Homo sapiens: one gene and its partner. The protein of the gene in region 2 purifies or fractionates together with the protein of the main gene of each other region. This does not show direct contact. Each region holds a gene or a part of one and is shown on either strand. Other genes may lie near its edges. The genes, in order: RNPEP and FAM98B.

Evidence for each region.
Region 1: the proteins of FAM98B (region 2) and RNPEP fractionate together in Homo sapiens (co-fractionation; one large-scale study listed by BioGRID). This does not show direct contact.

What each region holds. Positions count from the first base shown.
Region 1 is NC_000001.11:201,996,107-201,999,928, reverse strand, and holds part of RNPEP (aminopeptidase B), read right to left. Parts: intron 3,783-3,822; coding exon 3,666-3,782; exon of another isoform or gene 3,520-3,665; intron 2,611-3,519; coding exon 2,375-2,610; intron 28-2,374; coding exon 1-27. UniProt on the Homo sapiens protein: Exopeptidase which selectively removes arginine and/or lysine residues from the N-terminus of several peptide substrates including Arg(0)-Leu-enkephalin, Arg(0)-Met-enkephalin and Arg(-1)-Lys(0)-somatostatin-14.
Region 2 is NC_000015.10:38,485,003-38,488,408, forward strand, and holds the end of FAM98B (protein FAM98B), read left to right. Parts: 3' UTR 1-2,708; downstream 2,709-3,406. UniProt on the Homo sapiens protein: Positively stimulates PRMT1-induced protein arginine dimethylated arginine methylation.

The DNA of each region.
Region 1 (3,822 bases), on a different chromosome or scaffold from region 2:
CAGCCTCCAAGCAGGTGTACGCAGCGCCTGGTGCAGAATCAAACGTAAGCCTCGGGAAAACGTCTGTCACCACATCCAAGTGTATTTTCCTGACAGAGACACTGTGCTGCCTCCTTGTGGCCTCAAGAAGAACAGCGACAGATACCTGAAGCTTAATAACATTACCCTCCTGGGGACCCAGGGCAAATAGGGACAGTTACAGAGAGCCTGACTCAGTCCCTAGCTCCCTGTTGCTGTGGGCTACAAAGGACTTGGTTAACTCAGGCTGTTGGTCTCTCTCCTAAGTGAGGACTGGGGGAATCGCACCTTTCTGACAGTTACCTTTCCTTATCAAAGTACTGTATTTTTATTTTATCTTATTTCATTTATTTTATTATTTTATTTTTTGAGACAAAGCCTCACTCTGTCACCCAGGCTGGAGTGCAATGGCGTGATCTTGGCTCACTGCAACCTCCGTCTCCTCCTGGGTTCAAGCGATTCTTCTGCATCAGCCTCCTGAGTAGCCGGGATTACAGGTGTGCACCACCACGCCCAGCTAATTTTTGTATTTTTAGTAGAGAGGGGGCTTTACCACGTTGGCCAAGCTCAAACTCCTGATCTCAGGTGATATGCCCGCCTTGGCCTCCCAAAGTGCTGGGATTACAAGCGTGAACCACCACGCCCAGCCCCCGGCCTTATTTTTAGAAAATGATTTGATTTTTTTTTTTTTTTTGAGACAGAGTCTCGCTCTGTTGCCCAGGCTGGAGTGCAGTGGCACGATCTCGGCTCACTGCATCCTCCACCTCCTGGATTCAAGCAATTCTCCTATCTCAGCTTACCAAGTAGCTGGGACTACAGGCACACACCATGATGCCTGGCTAATTTTTGTATTTTTAGTAGAGACGGGGGTTTCACCATTTTGGTCAGGCTGGTCTCAAACTCCTGACCTCAGGTGATCCACCTGCCTCAGGCGTGAGCCACCATGCCTGGCAATGACTTGATCTTCTGTGAAAACTTAGAATTATTTTCATCTAACTGTTTCTGTCAGACAAAAGAAATTATCAACCCCAAATTTTTAAGGATCTCTAAGTCTCCTTCTGCATTAAAAACAATGACTGAGGGAACAGTGGAGGGGTGGGGCACAGGGTTTTGGAACCAGCCAGCTCTGCCCTTTCCTAGATGTTTTGACTCTGAGTAAGTGGCTTAGCCTCTCTCAGCCTCAGTTTCTTCAACTGTACAATGGGATAAAAATATTTGCTTGCAGGATTCCTAATGGCTGATTAAGATATTCACAAACAGGCTCTTGCTATATATATTCTGAATGAAAGTACAGAATTTGTACAAACTTTCTGGAAGATAATGGACAATATGTACTAAAAAGACTATGTAATTTAAAACGTTCAGGGCCGGGCGCAGTGGCTCACAGCTGTTGTCTCAGCACTTTGGGAGGCTTAGACAGGCAGGTCACTTGAGGCCAGGAGTTCAAGACCAGTCTGGCCAATATGCCGAAATCCTGTCTCTACTAAAAACATAAAAACTAGCTGGGCATGGTGGTGCATGCCTGTAATCCCAGCTACAGGGAGTGGGATGTGGGGGAGCTGAGGCAGGAGAATTGCTTGAACTACGGAGGTGGAGGTTGCAATGAGCCGAGATTGCAACGCTGCACTCCAGCCTGGCAACAGAACAAGACTCTGTCTCAAAAAAAAAAAAAAAAAAAAAGTTCAGACCCAGAAATTATGTTTCTAAGAATTTATCATTGTTGAAATCATCTGATATGAATAGACATTTATGTGTAAGGAAATTTGTCAACATATTTCAATGGAAAATTGGAAACAACCAGTAAATTAAAAAACATCCATATATGCAGCTATAGAAGAAAATCTAATGGGCTGGGCATGGTGGCTCACGCCTGTAATCCTGGCACTTTGAGAGGCCGAGGAGGTTGGATCACCTGAGGTCATGAGTTCGAGACCAGCCTGACCAACATGGAGAAACCTCGTCTCTTCTAAAAATACAAAATTAGCCAGGTGTGGTGGCGCATGCCTGTAATCCCAGCTACTCGGGAGGCTGAGGCAGGAGAATCGCTTGAAGCCGGGAGGTGGAGGTTGCAGTGAGCCGAGATCGTGCCATTGCACTCCAGCCTGGGCAACAAGAGCAAAACTCTGTCTCAAAAAAAAAAAAAACTAATGACCTGGGGAAATGTTTTTTTAAAAAAAAGTCAGTTGTCAAACCATGTGTGGTTTGACAATTCATACATACAGAAAAATGTTGGATACACACTACTGCCTCGTCTCTTCACACCCACTTGTATTCTGAAACCCCATAAGGAGATCACACTGGCCCCACAGGTTAAGAATGGGAGGCAGACTCCTTAGGAGAGGGGTGGGCACTTTACCAAAGAGGATGGTGGAGATCCTCCTCTGGGCGTACATGGTGAAACCTTCATTGAGCCAGAATTCACCCCAGTTGGCGTTGGTGACCAGGTTCCCAAACCAACTGTGGGAGATCTCATGGATGATGACATCTGCCAAGGAGCGGTCCCCAGCTAGCAGGCAGGGGGTGACAAAGGTCAGACAAGGGTTCTCCATTCCTCCAAATGGAAAGGACGGTGGCATGAAGAGCAAGTCATACCTGCCGAGAAGCGGGGAGGTCACCAAGAGGCCCTGGCTTCCCGGAGCAGACCCTACCTCGCCTCCCTTTCCAGCCTATTTCCAAGCCCTAACAGATGCAGTCACTAAACAGGCAGAGTACGACTTCGGGCCCAGTGCGGAAAATAAAGCCCAGGCTCCTCAATGCTTCTCCCACGTGGCTCCCCTGCCTTGCTGGGACTTCCCTCATCGAGGTGGTGTCTGCTCTCCTGGAGCTCACTCTCCAGGCATTTGTTTCCCTCTCTCCTTCCAAGCAGGGGTGGAGGTGATAAATGTATTATCAGCTCCATCACATGGAGTTCCCTGGAGGCCAACTTGGGGTCATAAAGACCAACCTGGAGCCTTTTATCTAAGGAGCCTAAAGTCTGAAGATGTCAAAGTTAAAAACAGAGTGTGGGGAAACTTCCAGCAATGGGAAAACACAGGTCAACAAAGGACCTTGACGGTGCTGCCCCATCTCAAACTTGGCAACTGCAGGTCACATTTTGAACACCTCAAGAACCTCTTCTCTGCCGGGCCTGGTGGCTCACACCTGTAATCCCAGCACTTTGGGACCAAGGTGGACAGATCACCTGAGGTCAGGAGTTCGAGACCAGCCTGGCCAACATGGTGAAACCCTGTCTCTACTAAAAATACAAAAATTAGCTGAGTGTGGTGGAGGGCGTCTGTAATCCCAGCTACTCTGGAGGCTGAGGCAGGAGAATCGCTTGAACCTGGGAGGTGGAGGTTGCAGTGAGCTGAGATCACGCCACTGCCCTCCAGCCTGGGTGACAGAGCGAGACTCCATCTCAAAACACACACACACACACACACACACACACACACACACACACACAAAGAACCTCATCTCCTAGGCCCTCTCCTCAGCAACAGTGAGAAGCCTGGCTCATACCCTCCTCTCTTCCTCCTCTCCTTCACTTCTGGGATCAGGGAAACTTTGCTCTGGGAGGCAGGAGGTGGAAAAGCCACACGAAGAGGAAGAATGGAAGCCAGTGACTCAGTTTAACAGGAGACACTAGAGTCAATGTGATACCACACCTTCCCCAAACATAAGGTCCAAAAAGCTTCTCTCCTGTTGCCAAAAATTCTTCTATCACCCCGTTGTACTCCTCCTTGGCAGCATCAATCAGGCAGGGCTCAGCCCACACCCGGCTCCTAAAGACAAGAGAGCAGAGAAAGCAGAATGGTGTTTAGA
Region 2 (3,406 bases):
TACCTGTATTTTGTTCAGGTTTGAGACATATAAAAGACCCCACCTGTAATAGAAAGGAATATAGACCCTTGCCTCACCTGTATTGCTGTGGATGTGTTTTGTGGGTTTTTCATTCGATTTTACAAAATAGGGAAAGGCACTTCCAGTTGTATTTAGTAGGCAGTTGTTGTGAATCATTTTTTTCTCTTATAGGAGGAGATTCCTCTCTAGCCATGTTTCTGTTAAAGTTTCATTAATTGAAGCCCAAGTTTACTTTTTACTGTACATACTTATTTTCTAATTGGATTTGAAATCAGCATGATTTTGTTTGACAAAGCAAAGTTTAAGATTGAGGTCAGAAATACTTTAATGGAGCAAAGACACATACCAACTTTACATGACGGTGTGAGAAATAGTCCTATAAACTGGTCTCTTCATCATTTATGCTCTCACTTTAGATATCCAAATATTAAAAGGCAGGCTGACCTGTATCACACAGAATTAAGGCAGTAATTTTCTGCTTCAGTAGATCAAGGGTAGGGCTAAGGCATCCTGTGGTAATTCTGATTCACAGCTAGATTTGGGAAACACAAAGTTAGGGAATGGCTATATGTGATTTGCTAGTTGGAGCAGTCAAAGTCTTAGCTATCAAGAGTTGTGAATTTGAATCATGGCACTAGGTCAGGGGTGCTATGGATTGAAATGACCTTAGTTCTCAAGGAGTGATTTGTCCTCATTTGTCAAATGAGGAATGAGACACTTACCATCATCTCAGGTTGTTTCTTAAAGACCTAAATACAAATACAATTTGTTAAAAACTTACAGAGGGCCTATTTTGAATGCTTTAAGATGTAGGCCAAGTAATGTATTTTTCTCTTAGTGTAGAAAGTTAAGAGAAAAAGAGCTGGTACCATAAATTTTTTCAATCTTAGTGTAAAATCTGTATCTCATTGTAGGCTTCTGGTCAATACCTATACATAACAACTTAATGTGATCTAACCAACTCAACTGATAGAAAGCTGAATTGTTCCCAGTGGACAAGTGGTATTTGATGTTTAGCAGGTTTTTTTGTTGTTATTTTTTTGGTAAACTCTGTGGTAAAATCTAAAATAATGTTAAAACCCTAAAAGTAACTATTGAATATTCTGTAATCTTAGACATGTATTTTTCAAGCTAACCCTTTGAAGAAATGTGTTCAAGGTAGGAAAATATAAAATTTTTTGGTTATTTGTAAATTTATTTTTTGTGTGTTTATATTTAATGAAAAGATGTAATTTCATTTGTGATAGCTGAAAAAAAGGCTTTCCATAATTAAGAAAATACCTTTATCAGTAGCTATGAACTCTGAAAAATAATTTTTAAAAACTTTTAAGAAAAAAACTACTTGAGTAAAATATTTCAAGAGTTGTTTAAAAATCTTCTTTAAAACCTTTACATTTCTGCCTCACTTCTTTTTTGGTAGCATTAGTTGCTGATGAAGGAGATTTACAACTACTTTCAACTTTTTTACCACTAAAGGTTTATGGTAAATATGGCAGAAACAATAGTTTATCAGTTTCATTAGATTTTCCATAAGATTTCTTTGTACCTTTATAGGAGTGCTGCTTGGGTTATTCACTACAATCACTTATTTCCTATCAAAGTTTAGCACTTGCTCCTGGAATCGTGTTGGAGCTGAAACCACTCCTATGTACACATTCCTATAAACCTTAATTGAATGAAAAGCTGAATCAGGTAGACTCTTAATATTTTACTCTTTCCTGTAAGGTGGGATTTTCCTGATAATCTTTGTTCAGTAAAAATTTCTTTTGTAGAACAGTTTGCTGAGCAGTATCTGGAATAGCAGGAAGGAAATTTGGGGCCTTAATGGGAAAGGCCATAGTGTGAAAATGTTTTATAAATTGAGTGCAATACGACATGGAGTATGATGAATGGCACTCCACTGCTTCCTAAAATCCAACACTTTTTTTGATACCTCCTTTTCATTCTTTTTTGCCTGGTTCTCAATTTCATTTTTTAATTACCTCATTGTCCTTCCCCTTTTTTCTTCTCTTTTTGTCCAGCCTGGTACCTAATAGCAAATATAGACATGATCTTACTGGGAGTTTCTGCCTAAAGTAGTCATCTTTCCTCTCGACCGTATAAAGAGCATGTATTCTGTCTATAACATAATCACCACACTATTACTCATAAGCACACATCAAAAGGGAAACAAGGGTTTTCTTTGAACTTACTTTTGTTTTGCAGATCAGGGAAACCTTGCCTCATTAAACAGAAAAAGGAAAACATTTTAAATAAAAAACATCTTATTACCTGTATCTGTGACAAGAGGAGGCATGACAACCTAAAAAAAATTTGTGACCAGAAAAATGTCCTGAGCAGTGATACTATCTATACCTTGGAAGGAGCACAGGTTAGAGAAATGTGGGGATGAAAATTGGGGAAGGTGAGCAGGCAGTTTAATCTTGCCTTCAGGATCAGGCTGTCAGTGTGACTTTATTACTTTGTATGAAGTATTATGAATTGCCCAAATGATAAATACACCCCCATCTAAATGTTCCAGAATGCATTCCACAGAGGAATTTGAGTGACTGAAATTTTTCCTCTTTCTTCATTGGTGTGGTTAAACAAAAATTAGCTGGGGATTAAGGGAAAATTGTGGCTATGTCTGATCATTCTAAATAATCATGACCACAAATAAATTGCCCTGAGTAGGTCTGTAACCTGGATTGAGCTGTCGTTACCAATTTTATCCATAGCTTCAAAGGATTTCTTCTTTACATGCTAGTTTGCTTAGATGAAACTGTGGAATTAAAAGCCACAGAGAAGGGACAACCTCAAGTCTGTCTCCTTTAATGTTAAGTATTTATAGACTTAATATTTGGGGACCACTGTAAGTTATGAATAAGATGGAAAGAGATTGAATATTTCTGTAGTGTTACTTCTTCGTGTTGTAAAAAGATGTAGAAAATTTTAAACTGAATAGCTGCTTTGCCTTTCCTTCCAGGAAAACTCAATTTGATTAATAGAATAGGGCAGTGGTCTTAGCTGTGGAATATAGGAAAAATTCAGGTAAAGTGTTTACGGGGTCACGAAGCAGAAGAAACACAAGACATTTGTGTTGTAGGGATCCTAATGTCTTTTATCATATAAATATTACACAAAGAAAACTTACATTAGGTATCAAAAAACTTTACAATCTGTACATTTGTTTTTTTCTTGCATTTCTATATTATACATTTTGAGACAGAAATTCACAACGGTCAGTAAAAAGGTAAGTCAGCAAAGAAAATGAGAAGTGACCCTGCTGTTAATACAACAAGATTTGTCCTTGTTTTGGCAGATAAATACCTGGCCAAACTAAAGTCGTGTGAGATGCAGAAATTTACACTAGGCTTGATAAGCCAAAGCCTTTTTTTTTTTTTTC